Regions from separate parts of the Homo sapiens genome. Here region 2 is linked to region 1. Evidence: fine-mapped expression QTL. A gene starts in region 1. The other region holds a variant in brackets. All regions are shown on one strand. Distances are between the middles of the regions. Region 1 holds the start of ARID5A (AT-rich interaction domain 5A). Region 2 holds the start of KANSL3 (KAT8 regulatory NSL complex subunit 3).

What was found. PIP is the estimated chance that this variant, and not a neighbour inherited with it, causes the effect.
Region 2: its variant is fine-mapped to the expression of ARID5A in whole blood (INTERVAL, PIP above 0.99).

Annotation. Positions count from the first base shown.
Region 1 is chr2:96,533,315-96,541,637 of GRCh38, reverse strand. ARID5A (AT-rich interaction domain 5A) reads right to left here and starts at 4,886. Exons shown (of 7, transcript NM_212481.3): 1 at 4,808-4,886. The coding sequence starts at 4,811. RefSeq lists enhancers at 2,565-3,110, 3,328-3,447 and silencers at 3,718-3,927, 4,608-4,967.
Region 2 is chr2:96,635,079-96,643,401 of GRCh38, reverse strand. It overlaps KANSL3 (KAT8 regulatory NSL complex subunit 3), which reads left to right and starts at 5,090. Exons shown (of 21, transcript NM_001115016.3): 1 at 5,090-5,119; 2 at 6,217-6,481. The coding sequence starts at 6,267. It overlaps FER1L5 (fer-1 like family member 5), which reads right to left and starts at 638. Exons shown (of 53, transcript NM_001293083.2): 1 at 481-638. The coding sequence starts at 565. RefSeq lists a silencer at 5,161-5,370 and an enhancer at 7,321-7,430. The variant C/G (reference allele first, on the strand shown) is at 4,959.

The DNA.
Region 1 (8,323 bases):
TATACAGGATGAAATAGGGATCCTAGCCATACTTTCCCCTCATTGGTTGGGGGCCCCAGTGAGTAGCCTCCTCCTCCAATGGTGTAAAATGCTACTTTCCCCATAATGTCAGTGCTTATAAGGAACACATCTGGGACTATTTCTGGACTTTCTATTCTGTCTCATCCACAGTGGGATGCTAGGACCTGTGCACACTGTTTTAATTTTTGTAGCTTTATAAAACAACTTACTATCCAGAGGGCAAGTTGCCCAATATTACTCATCTTTTAAAAATATTCCATTTGAACTTTGGGATAATTCTGTTACATTCCCTTTAAAAAAAAACAAAAACAAAAACACTTTGGGAGGCCGAGGCGGGCAGATCATGAGGTCAAGAGATCGAGACCATCCTGGCCAACATGGTGAAACCTCGTCTCTACTAAAAATACAAAAATTAGCTGGGGGTGGTGGCGCATGCCTGTAGTCCCAGCTACTCAGGAGGCTGAGGCAGGAGAATCGCTTGAACCCAGGAGGTGGAGGTTGCAGTGAGCTGAGCTCGCGCCACTGCATTCCAGCCTGGCGACAGAGCGAGATTCCTTCTCAAAAAAAAAAAAGGCCAGGTGCGGTGGCTCACGCCTGTAATCCTGGCACTTTGGGAGGCCAAGGCAGGCAGATCACTTGAGGTAAGGAGCTCGAGACCAGCCTGGCCAACATGGTGAAACCCCATCTCCACTACAAATACAAAAATTAGTGGGCGTGGTGGCACACGCCAATAATCCCAGCTACTCGGGAGGCTGAGGCAGGAGAATTGCTTGAACCCAGGAGGTGGAGGTTGCAGTGAGCTGAGATTAGGCCACTGCACTCCAGCCTGGGTGACAGAGACTCCGTCTCCAAAACAAACAAACAAACAAACAAAAAACCCCCACTACTGGGGCTTTGATTGCATTTAAATTTAGAAACTACTTTGAGGAGAAATAATACCTTTACAGTATTGCATCTTTCTTTTCAGGACCATGTGTCTCCATAATTCAGGTTTCCCTCTGCAGTCCTCAGAAGTTCCTTCTTAAAAAGCCCCTGTGCTTTCTTGGGGAGGTTTATTCCTAGTTTGTTCCTTGAGTTTTGTGCAGCTAGAAAATGGTGTTAGAAAAACCCTGATAACAGTAGTTCACTCCACAAAAGCCCCCCTGCGATTTCCTCATTTCACTGCTGGGAAGAGGGCCGAGGCAGGCTAGGTGGCTGCGCCAGAAGATGAGCCTGGGCTCCTAGTGACCCAGTCCCTTACTAAGCAGAGAGGGGGTGCGGCAGGGTGCTGGGCAGGAGGATTGCCTGAGGCTCTTCCTGTGCTATGAGTCTGATTTCTTTCCAACTCCATAGCTCCTGTCTGAGTCAAGCTCAACTCCCAGATCCTAAAACTCCAGCACTGAAGATGTTAGTCTGTCACTGCCTCCAGTAGAGGATGCTCCCATAGGTCTACTTGTTCTCAAGTTACATGCTCCACCGACTCAAATCAGTGCCCTGGCTGGTGTGGGCTAGGCATCTCATACAACATTGCATTGCTGAATCTTCCCAGCCATCCAGATATAACAGATATAATGTCTGAGGCTCAGAGAGGTTCAGTAACTTGCCTGGGGCCACAGAGCTTATCCATGGCAGAGCTGGGATTCAGAACCAGGGTAGTCTGACTCCTGAGAGACGCTGATCCCTGAGAGCTAGAGATTTTTTTCTTTCTAATGGGAGCAGGGAGACCTCAAGTTCCTTATCTGTGCTCAGAGGATGCAAACTTGTCCCCTTTCCCCAAGTAGATGTGCAGTTTCCCAGCACATCGCTCCTGTCACTCTGCTAACAAGAGCAGGTCTGTGTTGACTGCTAAGGCATCCAGGCTCAGGGATGGGAGGGGGCTGGTCAGAGAGCTGGGCAGCAGCGGGGAGAGGGGGAGGGCCGGGAAGGGGCATGGCCCCCACACTCTATGAATCAACTTCCCTGGCCTGGGTCGGGGAGGGCCCAGAGGACCCACCATCTTTGAATAAGGGGTGTTATCTCCATAATCTTGAGGAAGGAGGAAAGACCTGTTGATACCTACTGAGATTCCATTTAAAAAACTGCTACCTGTTACCTGAGAGAGTAGGGGGCCAGCTCTGGCCAGGGCCCAACCAACCTGGCGAAGCAAAGGCAGGTATGCAAAGGCAGGAAGGTGAAGGCAGTCGGGCGGTGGTTGAGAGTCACTGAAGACAAACTTAAGATGTCTCACGGGGCTTAGCCAGGACTAGAAGGTAGCTATGGGGCCAGGCAGTGGGTGGATGCGGGGAAGTCAGTGGGCCCCTGCCCTGCCAGACATCAAGCTGGAAGCAGATGAAAGTGGGCCAAGAGGACAGATGGGGCAAGGGGTTCCAGCACTGCATGGCTGCACCTCTTACCAAGTTGGTCACTGGTTCTGTATCTCCCTTTCCCCATCTACAAGATGGGCGTGCTAGACTCAATGTGCCCAATGTTCTCAGCAGAAAAAAGTGAGAAGAGAAAGGAGGCTTCCCCCACAAACCACAGCCAGGCTCAGTGAGAAGATCAGAGGCCTGCCTGTCCTGCTCCCTCCCCAAGGCACCTCGCTGCCCAGCAGGTGCTCCGGAAACATCAGCCTCCTGGGTGCAGGATGAGCGCAATGGACTTACAGACCCCTGTTGCCCAGAGAGGGGCAGTGACTAGTACAAGGCCACACAGCTCTCAAGTTTAAGGGTCTGCTGGAGGCACACACCCCTTTCCTTCTCTCCCTCCCCATCTTTCTGCTGCCCGCCCCACTCACCCTGGGTGTGATGGGAAGGAAGTGACACTTCCTTTCATGAAAAGTCACCGACTGGGAACACTGCGTCAATTACCACAATAATGGTAACAGCAGCCTCAATAACAACCAGCAGACGCCGCCCCGCCCCCTCGGCTGAGGTTGTTGGCTTAAGTTTCTCTAAGCTTGAGCTGGAGCAAAACAAAGACAGCCTTTGAAGCGGCGAAACGGCCGGTCCACTCGGCAGCCCGGGAGCGGCGGCCAGGCCGAGTCTACGCGAGCTTGCTCCAGCAGTTTGGGGAGGGGGGCCTGCCAAGTGTTGAGCTGGAGCCAGCAGTGAGAAGAAACGCGATGGGCCTGGGACCCCCACTCCCTAACAGGGCACAGGTGCAGCTCAAGCCACAGCCCAACCTCAGTACCTCAGCTTGGGGGAGGGCGAGAGAGACAGGGTCTGGGGGCAGCTGAGGCCACAAGAGCCACCAGAGGGTACAGAAAGGGAAGGAGGTGCGGGGGACACTGAATGTGAGGCTACCAACTTCCAAGCCCCATTCTCCCTGTCCCTCTTACCGGGCTCTGGGATGTCCTAAAAGCCCCAGTTCCAGGATGGGACTGTCCCTCCCCACGGAGTCTGGGCCACATTTGGTGGTGACGGACAGTGAGAGCTCCTCAGATGGTTTCGTGTGTTCCCATTTCACCTACGGGGCAGAGGCTCAGAGGTGCCAGTTGACGTCTCTCAACTGTAGAAGCAGATTATCGGAGGCCCTTTCTACCTCTGCCACACCAAGTTCTAGGCCCCAGGCGGGTCCCTAAGGCCTGGATTGGGCTCTGAGCTCTGCTGCGGGGTGAAGCCCTCGAGCCCCGACCTCCCACCCCTCCTGTGCTCTAGCGTTGCCTGTAGGCGCAGTGACGCCACCGTGCGTGTGGGCTCCCACCAGAGGAGCCCGGGTGGGGCAAGAGGCACCTGTTGTCCTCCCCTGGGGCCCGCGGAGCACTCCTTACTGGCCCAAGACTCTGCAAACAAAGGGACACTGGACCCGCAGCGCCTTGGGACCCCCTGGGCCCTCGGGGGTCCTGCACCGCGCAAGCCCCACCACGCCGGCGCTGGGCGGAGGGTGACGCGACCCCAGCCCGGGCGACCCCTAGACACCGCGGAGGGACGGAGCGCGGGCCCGGGTTGGCCCGCAGCTCCCGCCGAGCGCGAAGCCGGGCATCGCCTGCAAGCTCGTAGCCCACGCTCTTGCCCTCTTCCCCTGACGCTCCCCAGCCGCCACCCCGTCCCTTCTGCAGACCGAGGGAAGACAAGGGGACACACAAGGGACAGGAGAGGAGAGCAACCAGGGAAGCGACCCCTCTCCTGTGGGGCTGCGGCGGGTGGGCGGAGAGACAGGAGAGGAAAAGAGAAAAGGGAAGAGAAGGAAGGGGCAGGGGGCGAGAAGCCGGGCTCCCCGGACCATCGGCGCAGCCCGCGGCCGAAAGAGGAACAGTGGATCCTACAAAGCGCATTGAGCAAGTTCTTCACACCCGCGCAGCCCCTTTCAGGAAACGGCGGCCGCAGAGGAAAGGGCCGCGCGCTCTGGACCCGGAGTCTGTGCCCGGCGGCGCCGCGGTTCTGAAACCTGCGGGATGTCACGGGGCGGAGGGGCGGCTGCCGACAGCTGTCACAACAAATTAGCTGAGCCCAGCTCGAGGTGGAAACCGCAGCAGGAAGTGGGACGACAGAGCCGTACCGGGCTCGGCATATTTCAGGCAAGAGACGGCGAAAAGAGTTTCGAGATAAACGCCCGGGAAGCCCCTGGCCGCCAAAACTTTTTGTCTTTCCTTTTCTCGAAGCTCGCGCGGACGCCCAGCCTCACCCCTTCCGCGCCGGCCGGGGAGCGCTGAAGCCGCGGGCCGGGCTCGCTCCCCTTGGCCCGCGCCCCGAAACCCACCCCGGGCCCCTCTCCGCCCCACACAGCGCACCGACTGCCACGAGGGCTGGAGGGGACCCGGCGCCGGCACCTTGAACCTCCCTGCAGGGCCGCCGAGCCCCTGTCCGGGCCGCGCCGCAGAGCCGCTTACCCATGGCCCGGAGAGGTCCCGCGGCGCCCGCCCCGAGACCCTCAGCGCGCGGCTGTCCGGACCCCGCGCTCTCTGAGATACTGGCTCGCGGCGCGGCCCGCCGGCCACCTCCCCGCAGTCCCGCCCCGTCCCGCCCCTGCTCGCCCCACTCCGGGCTCCCATTGGTAAGCCCGGCTTCGTCGCGCGGAGAAGGCGGGGGGCGGGGACCGCCCTTGAGTCCGGGGACCTCTGGGAATTGTAGTGCGCGCCCCTCGCCTCTAGGCTTTCAGACTGGAGCCCCTGGAATAGGCTCCTCACCTAGAGGAGCGGAGGCAGGACCCTCAGTAATCATTGCTGCCTTGTGCCTCAGTTTCCCTGGAGGCAAAACTAGAGCCTTGGAAAAAGCCTCCTTGCTTTCAGCAGAGCACTGAGGACTCTGTGGAGCGAGCAAAGTGCTTCTGACTTTGATTTGAAAGTGGCCCTGTGCATTTCCCAGTCCCCACCTAGCCCAACAAAGAAGGCCAGGTGAGGCCGGGAGCGGCGGCTCACGCCTGGAATCCCTGCTTTGGGAGGCGGAGGCGGGAGGATCACTTGAGCCCAGAAGGTCGAGGCTGCAGTGTGTTTTGATCACACCACTGCACTCTATCCTGGATCCTGGGCAATAGACGGAGACCCTGCCTCAAAAAAAAAAAAAAAAAAAAAAAAAAAAAAAAAAAGGAGAGGTGGTTAGTGTGAGCTAGACAAGGACCAAACTAGTAAATCCTTGGCCTAGGCTCTGTGGCCAGGCCTGCCAGTAATAGTCAATGTCCACACACATAATGCAGACAGAGTGTGGCAGCTACAAGCTGAGTAGTCCAAAGAAGGGGCATGAGTTCAGGCTGTGGGAGGTGGGAATGAGGCCTAGGGCGAATGGAGGCAGGAGGAGGTGCCCAGCCAGCCATAGCAGCAACCTGGACCTGTGCAGGCCAAAGAGGAAGAAATGGAGGCTCAGGGTTTCAGTCTCAGCAGGTGGCTAGCTAGGATGGGAACCCTGTTCCTAGCACATAGAAGCTACACAAAAATCTTTGTTGATGAATTTTAATACTCATAATAGCTCTATGCACTTGACACCATCATTGTCCTCATTTTATAGCGTAAAACTGAGGTCTGAGAGATTAGCTCAAGTAGCACAGCTGGTAGGTGTTGGAGCCAGAGCTAGACCCAGGAAGAGGAGCCCTCATACCCAGGCATCCCCCCACCCGCTTTGCACCCATTACTAACCACTCATCATACTGGTGCCCCTCCTCACACTAAACGAAGGGACCAGGGCTGCAGTTTGGTGAACCTGAAACCCTGGCCCTTACCCTTTGGCCCTGGGATGGAAGATGTCTGCAGGCTCAGTCTAGAGCAGACGACCCTGTGGGCTCTGCAGGATAAATCCCCTGTCTACCTCATAATGGGTTGGCTTGTAAGAGCCAGCACCTGTAGAATTGGTAATAGACACCCAGAACAATCATAATGGTAATTATAACAATGCATCCCACTTTGGCAAGTTTACAAGCCACTTTCCCCTCCAGGAAAGCTAAGGCTGTGGTGGAAGACACTATGATGGGATGCCATCAGGAAGCACCTTTGTACATTCTGGAAGCATTGATTGGCAGGCACTATGCCCAAGGTTGGGGATGGAGCTCTGGATGCAGCCCCCGGGGTCACAATCTAGGCCAACCCCTCACTTGTGGGTTGGATACCCCTAATGACAAGGAACTCACTATCTTATAAGACAGCAGCTCATCCCACCAAGAGTTAGGGTTATTCTGCCATCCGGGCAGCTGGGCACATTCTGACAGACAAGGGCTGTTGTGCAAAGCCTCAGCAAGTCAACACCTGCCTGTGCCAGCCTGGGAACGATAGGATCTAAATTTAATTGCTTCCTGAGGCAACTGTTTGCAATAGAAAGTAATTTACAATGGCCAGTAAATCCTGCAGAAAACAGACATCTCCATTCATCTGGCTAAAAGCATAAACACTTCCATTGCTCAAGCCTCCATCTCACACACCTCCACTCCGGCCCAAAGCCACCCTCCTCTGCACCCTCCAACCACAGGATCCCAGGCCAGGACGCCTCTGTGCCTACAGAGGGGGTCAGCTAGCCCCTCAGTGTCCTGGTGTCTCTCTGTGTGTCTTAATAATAAGAAAAACAAACCATCACTTATAAATAAACACATTCGTCCTGTAAAAACATGCAAGTAAATCAGCCCTCTCTGATGCTACACCAAATCCAGTTCCCTCCCTGCCCCAGAGGTAAAGACCCATCAGATTGGGTGAAGTCTTCCAGAACTTTCCCTATGTGTATTTTCAAAACTATATATGTATCCATGGTATAGAAAAATAGATAGCTTTGTTTTATGTGTGTGTTTAAAGAAACGATACAATTCTCATTGCTCCATTCTGAAACTTGCTTTTTCGATCACCGCTAGATCTTACAGACTTTCCTTGTTGGAACACAGATCTGCTTCTTTGGGAACTGCTGGGCTGTGTGCCCAGCACAGTGTATTTAATCTCCTCTTGATAGCGTTTAATCTTTTTGCAATTACATGAATCCTGCTGAGAACATTATAGACCCCCTTAGAACAGTTCCAGGGCTAAGGAGCTCACAAAGTGTTCCCAGAGACTGAGCTAAAAGCTGCTTTCTAACTCCCACCTCCATGTCCTAGCACCTCTTGTTAGCCCATTTCTAGGAAGAAAATCTGGCCCTGGGGGTGGTTCTCATCCTGGAGCTCTCAGAGATATAGGGACCATTCAAGATCATCTGTCCACCTGGTCTCATTTTAGAAAGGAGGTCACCAGGCCAGAGAGGTTAAGCAAACTGTCCAAAGTCACACAGCAAAATCAGTGCTTTTGTTTCTTCTGGGACCTGCAAACCCATCCAGTGCCCTCAGGAAACAGAATGCACAGCCAGTCTTCTATCCTGGGAAGCTCAGTTCCCAGGCTCAGCAGTTGCCAAAGGCCCCTGGGGGTTTGTTTTCAAAGGAGAAATGAAGTGGGGAAGTATTTTTAACGCGGCCCCGCCCTGCTTGCCTAACTCCTCGTTCCCCGTGCTAGCTGTCCAGGAAAGGCCAGCTTCACAGCAGCATTTGCAACTCATGGAAAACAACAAATGCCCGAAATAGATGATACCCAAGCTCAGGAATGGAAAAAATTGGCTCATGGTTCAAATGCCTCTTTTAGAAAAAGACAAGAATAGCTTTTGGCCTTTGGGGAACTGCTGGGGGTGAAGGAGTGGGGAGGTGGTTGTGAGTCCCAGATCACCAAGGGCCAACTTCCTGCCTGAAAGAGCTTTGGCCACTGTACCCCAGGGCGCGTGTAAACCAGCTTCCCAAGCTTTGTCCACACTGGAAGCTGCATCTGCACCTGGCTCTAGGTTCCCTCCAACCTCCAGCCAATCTGGAAAGATTTCCTGTGTTGGGCCAGGGCTGGGCTGGTTTCCCCTCTCCACCCCACATCTCCCCAGTGTGTCCCAGCAGGGTAGAAACCCATGGTTCTGAACTTCCTGAGCCT
Region 2 (8,323 bases), 100 kb before region 1:
CTGTAGCCTGGGTGACAGAGTGACAGTCTGTCTCAAAAAAAATAAAAAATAAAAAATAATAATAATGCCTTGTCAATTGTAAAGCTCATGCAAATGAAACTAATATGATCAAGCAGTTATTACTAAAAGTTGTACTAAGGGCTATACACATATTATCTTTTTAAACTCCCGCATCAATCTGAGGAAGCAGGGACTTTCTCTTTAAACCTTAGTTTATGGCACAGCTCCAGGTCATGGAAGAAGGTCCAGAAGCACTAGTCCTCTCTTTTTTCCATAGCCATTCCCTAGCAAAAGTGGGAGGCAGAGAAGTCATAATCAAATGATAGCAATAAGTTTTGAGAGAGCTGGACAACGTCTACTTCACTTTGTGTTACACAGGGCATCTTTTATGTAGTGGGGTGCCATACACCTCTTTTTTCACTGAATCCATGTTGCCTCTGGGGGCTTCTCTCTCCCATGTGGACCCAGGGAGGCTCTCACCTCTGAAGTCGATGGACATGCAGGGCCTGGGTAGTGGGGCTAGTGGTGGGTCAATCTTGGCCGACTGCACCACAAGCCGCAGCATCTCGGAGACCTACTTTCTTCCCTCCTTCCCTACGCAGCGCCACAGCTTCCTTTTTGGAGCTCCTCAGTCCAAGACTTTTCCCAGCGATCCTGGGGTGAGTGGAGCCCCACTTCCTGTCTGTTGCTAAGCAACAGACAGGCTGTCACAAAGGTGGGCGGTTCTTGGTTCTGGAGAGGAATTAATGGGAAAGAGAAGGGGGAGGAGGAACAGGGTATAGGTGACTGGGCCTGTAGAAACAAAACCACCTGGCTGCTTTCACCCCCTTTTCTTATTGCCCAGGCTGGAGTGCAATGGTGCGATCTCAGCTCACCGCAACCTCCACCTCCCTGGTTCAAGCGATTCTCCTGCCTCAGCCTCCCGAGTAGCTGAGATTACAGGCATGCGCCACCACGCCCGGCTAATTTTGTATTTTTAGTAGAGATGGGGTTTCTCCATGTTGGTCAGGCTGGTCTCGAACTCCCGACCTCAGGTGATCTGCCCACCTCGGCCTCCCAAAGTGTTGGGATTACAGGCGTGAGCCACCAAGTCTGGCCTTAAAAAATTTTTTTTTGCCCACCCCACACCTGCCCTCCTTGCCGTCCTTTTGATTTCAAGGTCAGACATAAGGTTGATGTTTTCTCCTTGTACAAGCAAGTTGTCTGGAGCCAATCATTGCCAAAGTCACACAATGTAGATGAGAAAATAAGAAAACAGTGAAGTGACCTGAGAAAAGGGATAGGAAAATCAAGGACTATTTCTGTGAGGTCTCAGGGAAAGTTCTTCCTAACGTGGAAACCTTTTTACTAAGAAAAACCTAAGTTTAGATACGAGACCCTCTTTGACAAAAGGAAATTAGCTTTTGAATTAATGAGCTCATATGGAAGGTCAAAGAAGACAATGCGGTTTTGAAGTGGCTGTCTTTATGGCTGTCTGAGCCTCTGTGCATTAAGATGGAGCTGGGGCACCTATTCTTATTGTCCACAGCAAGGCTTTTTAGGCTTTAGGGTTGAACATCGTATAAATTACATCTTATCCAATAGTTAGAATGAAAACTAATGAATATTTAAATGCTGGGATTGGTGGCTCATGCCTGTAATCCCAGCACTTTGGGAGGCCAAGGTGGACGGATCACTTGAGGCCAGAAGTTCGGGAACAGCCTGGCCAACATAGCAAAACCCCATCTCTACTAAAAATACAAAAATTAGCTGGGCGTGGTGGCACGTGCCAGCAATCCCAGCTACTTGGGAGGCTGAGGCAGGGGAATCGCTTGAACCTGGGAGGTGGAGGTCACAGTGAGCCAAGATTGCACCACTGCACTCCAACCTTGGCAACACAGCGAGACTCTGTCTCAAAAAAAAAAAAAAAAAGGCCGGGCGTGGTGGCTTACGCCTGTAGCCTGTAATCCCAGATCTTTGGGAGGTTAAGGCGGCCGGATCACGAGATCAGGAGATCAAGATCATCTTGGCCAACATGGTGAAACCCCGTCCCTACTAAAATACAAAAAATTAGCCGGGCATGGTATTGCGCGCCTGTAGTCCCAGCTACTCCGGAGCTGAGGCAGGGGAATCGCTTGAACCTGGGAGGCGGAGGTTGCAGTGAGCCGAGATCACGCCACTGCACACAAGCCTGGCCACAGAGCAAGACTGTCTCAAAAAAAAAAAAAAAAAAAAAAAAAACAATGTTTAAGAACAATCTATTAGTTAATGAAACAACTACTTAGCAGTAAGCGTACCACGCAGTCTAAGAGATGAATGGATTCAAAGACTGAAACGCTGGGTCAGTGATCAGGGTGCTGATTGCTTTCTAGTGCAGCAGATTAAAAAAAAAAGTGCTTCTTGGAAGTTTTTCTTGAAATCTAAACACAACACAGTGCTTTTCGCTTTGTGAATGGCTTTTCAAAGTAAGCGTGACACAAAAGACCCTGTAAGTGAAAAGCTGACAGATTTGACTGTATTAAATAAAAAATTCCTATGTAGAAATTATGCCTTAAAGCTAGAAGACAAATATCAAAGCAGGGAAAACATTTTCAATATACTTAATGTCCAACAGTTTATTTAATAAATGTTTATAGAGCAAGCTCTTAATAAGAAAAGGATGACTATCCCAAAGGAAAACAAAGGCAAAGCTCCTATCAGATAATTGCCCAAAATGACAAAAAAAAATTTTTTTTAAAAAACCCTCAGTCTTGTTAATAATCAAAGAAATACAATGAAATACAATTTATGACTTTGCCAAATTGGTTTCAAAAGCCAAAAAAGATGTAAAAAAAAAAAATCAAACTCACTGGGCACGGTGGCTCACGCCTGTAATCCCAGCACTTTGGGAGGCCAAGGCGGGCGGATCACGAGGTCAGGAGATCGAGACCATCCGGGCTAACACAGTGAAACCCCGTCTCTACTAAAAATACAAAAAATTATCCGAGCATGGTGGCACACGCCTGTGGTCTCAGCTACTCGGGAGGCTGAGGCAGGAGAATCGCTTGAACCAGGGAGGTGGAGGTTGCAGTGAGCCGAGATCACGCTACTGCACTCCAGCCTGGGCGACAGAGAGAGACTCTGTCTCAAAAAAACAAAAACAAAACAAAACAAAAAACTCATTAATAAGCAAATAAATGGGATAAGATACCATTTATCACCTCTTAAATTGGCAAAGAATGAAACAAAATGATAAACGTGGTGTGCTGAGGAAAGGAAGGGGCAGAGAAAAGATACAAATCTGTTTTTAGTGGGAATGGGAATATAAGTAGAGAAATAGCAGAACCCTGGCCCCAAACAAGCGCCCAGGAGACAAAGTTAAGGGTAGGGAGAGGTGGGGCAGGGGCTGCTCTATTTGTGATAATTTCTATGGCCTTAAGCTCCATATTTCTAAACAGCACTTTTAAATAGCATTCCTTGATTTTTTCAAATCTATGAGGCATTTTCCCAGTTTTATTGTTTTCCCCGGGGCTCTCCCTCCTGGTCTTCTCTTCTCCCCCAGCTGAGACTAGTGGTCCCCAGTCCTGCAGCATAGCTATTGTCCTGGGATACTCTTTGCCATCACCTTCAGAATTCCTCGTCTGCTTCTTGTGTTAGACCCTGCTTCCCCGATCCTATGCCTTCCGTCTTCTCAGTTTACCCTCTCATCTTTGTGGAACACAGCTTTGAGTGGCTTTCTGAATGTTTCGAGTGTTTGCATGTCTGTACCTATCTTTTTTTTTTTTTTGAGACAGAGTCTTGCTGTGTCGCCCAGGCTGGAGTGCAATGGCGCGATTTTGGCTCACCGCAACCTCTGCCTCCTGAGTTTGAGAGATTCTCCCACCTCAGCCTCCCGAGTAGCCGGGATTACAGGCATGCGCCACCACACCTGGCTAATTTTTGTATTTTTAGTAGAGACAGGATTTCGCTATGTTGGCCAGGCTGGTTTTGTACTCCTGAACTCGTGATCCACCCTCCTCAGCCTCCCAAAGTGCTGGGATTACAGGCGTGAGCCACCGCACCCGGCCATTTCTTTTTTTAAATAGAAACGAAGTCTCACTGTTTTGTGCAGGCTAGTCTTGAACTCTTGGGCTCAAGCAATCTTCCCACCTTGGCCTCCCAAAGTACTGGGATTATAGGCATGAGCCACAGATCCCGGGTGAGATTTATCATCTTGAACCATGTCTCTTGCTGTCTTGTCTCATGTCTCTTGATGTCATGTTGTCAGTCAGTCAACCAAATAACCAATTATTGATCAGTCAACATTTGAACAATTACCTATGTTCTGGGTGTATGTTCTCTGGAGGATACAAAGGTTAATGTCCCTGATTTTGAGGATCTACTCTCTCTACACAAAACACATAGGAAAGTTAACCACACAAAACAATCTAGGGTCAGTAACAAAATTCTTTTTTTTTTTTTTTGAGACGTAGTCTCACTCCGTCGTCCAGGCTGGAGTGCAGTGGTGCAACCATGGCTCATTGCAGCCTGGACCTCCCAGACTCAAGTGATCCTCCCACCTCAGCCTCCCGGGTAGCTGGGACTACAGGCATACACCACTATCACACACACCTAATTTCTAAAATTTTTTGTAGATACGGGGGTCTCATCATATTGGCCAGGCTCATCTCAAACTCCTGAGCTCAAGAGGTCCTCCCGCCTAGGCCTCCCAAAGCGCTGGGATTACAGGCGTGAGCCACATTAGGTAAATTCTTAATGAGTAAATTCAGGTGGCTGCCCTGGTGGAGGTGGACCGTTGGGTGCTCGACCGCCCAGAGGGCACAAAGGACCAACACGGTGGGGGTGGCGAGAACTGGGGCCGTAGAAGCCAGCCTAGTCCTCCGCCCTCGCTTTCCCTACTGAATATGCGCGAGGGGGAAACTCCAGCCTAGTTGTTGACTTTCTGCTTCGGACATGCTCGCGTGTTCTTGGCTCTCCTCTTCCGGACAGAGGCGCCGGAG[C/G]TTCATCCGTTCCGGGCTTTGCCGCTCACCGCCTCTCCCTTCCCAGGCCGTAACCCGCTTCCGCGTTTTACTCGGTGCCCGCAGCGCCGGGGCGTGGAGGCGTTAACGCGCACGCGCTTAGGGATCCGGCCGTGGCCGAGCGCGCGGCCGTAAGACCGCGGGTGAGAGCAGCGTTGGCTTCGAGGGGAGTGGCGGGCCGTGGGGATCGCGGCCGTGGTTGGGACGGCCGGGGGTCTCGGCGAGGGCTTCAGGGCTCCCGGGGCATGCGGGGGCCCGGGCTAGGGCCGGCTGCCGGTGCTGGTCGGGCGGGGCGGGTCGGGCCGGGGGCGGGCTGGCAGGGGCCGCGTCTGGGCCTCCGTGACGCGGACGCCGAGCCCTGCCCCAGGGAGCGGGAGGCGGGAGGCGGGGGCCAGGCGGCTCCTCCTCGTCGCGAACTCTGGATGACCTTGGCCAAATCGCTTCAGTTCCCCGAGCTGGCGACTTCGTCTGTAAAATGCGAGTCATAGCCCTGTCTCCTAGATGGGCCGTGTGGAGGCTCAGTGGCGGGAACGCCTGCGGGGCAGCCGGGGTCCTGGGCGGTTTGCTAGGGACGCCTCACTGGGGGTGAGGGTGAAAGGGCTTCCACGGGGATCATTTTGTCACAGGCTTTGTTGGGGGGGCAGTTTTCATTTTTATGTAAACAACTCTGGAATATTACGAAGTACTTAACAGAACTTTTGTTTCGCACAATACGAGAGGCTTGAAGAAGTGGAGCCCTAGCTGGGATTCGCTTTTTTGAGGCCGGCGTTGCCCTGCCCTTTAGGGGTGCCCACGCTCTAGCTGCGGCCCCGGCTCCCTTCGCATTGTCGTTAGAGGATGGTGTGAAGCAACAGAGATCCTTAGCTTTCAACGAATTCATATTTGTGATTTCCTGTTTGTCAAAACCCTTCCTGCCCACCTAGGAAGTGGTGCTGGCCAAGCAAGTTTACTGTCTGTCCACGCGAGGTCTTTCTGAACCTTGGGGTCGGTGAGCTCTCCCGTTAGGTAATTTCAGTTCGCTAGAGGTTGAGTATGGGACAACTCGTGGCACCATAGTTTTTTTTTTCTTTTTTTTTGGTGTTGGTGTGGGATTCCACGAACCGTCCCCACCAGAGGTCTGCCGTGAAATGGATACTCAATAGGAATGATAGTAGGTTACAAAAGTAAGCATGTTAGATGGTGTAGATTGGGAGAAATTTAGGATATTGGAATTGACCTAAACTGAAACTTTTCACTGCAGGTGACTAGCATGCAGATACCCATGCTCTGACTTTCTGCCCCTCCACTGACATGGCCCACCGGGGTGGGGAGAGGGACTTCCAGACTTCAGCTCGACGCATGGGCACCTCGCTGCTCTTCCAGCTTTCAGTGCATGAACGGGAGCTGGACCTGGTTTTTCTGGATCATAGCTATGCCAAGCCTTGGAGTGCCCACCCAGATGCCAGTAGTGCCCGCCCCACCCGCATGCTCTTTGTCACTCCCCGGCGGCAGCACGAAAGTACCATGTGAGTTGGGGCTTCTAAGGGCTGCTGGTAACCTCACTGGGCAGTGATCAGATGGGAATTTAGAGAGGATTTTCTCAGGATTGACTGGGGGAGATTGTATGAGGCATTTGGATGTTAAATTCAGGCATCTCTTAAGCAGCATAAGGATAGCAGGCTTGAATGTGGCTATCTCTGTGAGACAGCTAACAAGAGTTAGGAAAGCAAGACGTGCAAATGAAAAGCAGACAACCTATTCCACTTAGATAGTAGGACGTGTGGAAAGGGGAAAATCGTAGAGGGTTATTTAACTGGTGAAGAAAAAGACTGAAAAGTTGATTTTAAAAGATTACCCACAGGATACGACTCTTTTATCACATTAGTCCAGTGCTCTGGGTTGCTTGACAGTGGCAACAATAGCCTTTTTATAGTAATGCATTTTGCTTTTCTTGGTTTCACACACGAAGGTTAGGAGCCAATTCCCAAGACGTTGCTTTTTCTCTTCCCTTGTTACAGAGCTGCTATCCATAGGTTAATCTAAACCCTTCTTATGTCTAATGATATTTTCACCCAGCCTATGTTATAGGGTAAGGAAGTTTCATAAATTGACTACCTGATGAGTGATACAGTTACATTTGGTCTAAATAAACCTGTTTGCCAGTTCTTTTGCACTTTAAGGCATTCTAATTATGTTTCATGATGTGTTGATATATTCCGTTATGGTGATCAAATCATGTCCTTAATAATTTTGTAAACTTTTGGAGAAGAGTTTTGTCTGTTTGTTTTTAATCTGACCTAATGTTTAATCTTTCCTTAAGCACTGGTTTTAATTTTGTTGGGGGTTAGAGCCCTTGTAGAGGCTTCTTTAGAGTCACCCCTCCTGGAATTGAGACTTAATGACCTAATGAGTTAGAGATACCACAATGTGTGTGTGTGGTTTTTTTTTTTTTTGAGATGGAGTCTTGCTCTGTCGCCCAGGCTGGAGTGCAGTGGTGTGATCTTGGCTCACTGCAACCTCCACCTCCTGGGTTTGAGCGATTCTCCTGCCTCAGCCTCCTGAGTAGCTGGGACTACCGGCGTGTGCCACTGTGCCTGGCTAATTTTTGTATTTTTAGTAGAGACAGGGTTTCCACCCACCATGTTAGCCAGGCTGGTCTCGAACTCCTGACCTCAGGCAATCCACCCGCCTCGGCCTCCCAAAATGCTGGGATTACAGGCATGAGCCACCGCTCCTGACCCACTGTGTGTTTTAAACATGTGCAGAATAGTGTCTTTTATTTCATTTCCCAATGACTTTATAATTTTGTTGGCTTTTTTGGTGTACAGGAGATAAAATCTGTAACTTTAGGCAATAATTTAGCATAATCTTGATGCCTCTGGCCTAGGGCATAACTGAAAAGCTCCTTTAAATAGTAGTTGAAGTCTTTTCCTTTTTTGCTGCATATTAGCTTCTTGCTGACATTAAAACTCCTGTGTCCACATCTCATGACATTTTCTTAAAGTGAGATTCTGTGGACTTGGTTCTTTTGGTACTTAGAAAATTGTTTCCTTTTATAATCTCTGTCTCCAAATATAGACCCTGAAAGTGAGAATTTGGCATGCTGTAAGAACTCTTTTAGGCCAGTGTGGCCAGAATATAATAGCAGTAGGGGTATAAGTGGGAGGTAGGGAGAAGTTGGCAAGGGTTACCTCGTGAAGGAATTTGATTCTAAGAGTGGTAAGAAGTCACTGAAGGATCTTAAACTAGAGATTCAATTTATACTTTAAAAAGATCATTTTGGATTTTTTGTTGAGTATATTATAGTGCAGGAGTAGAACTTACAAGACCAGCTGCAGGCTGCCACTGCAATGGACTGAGATGGGCCA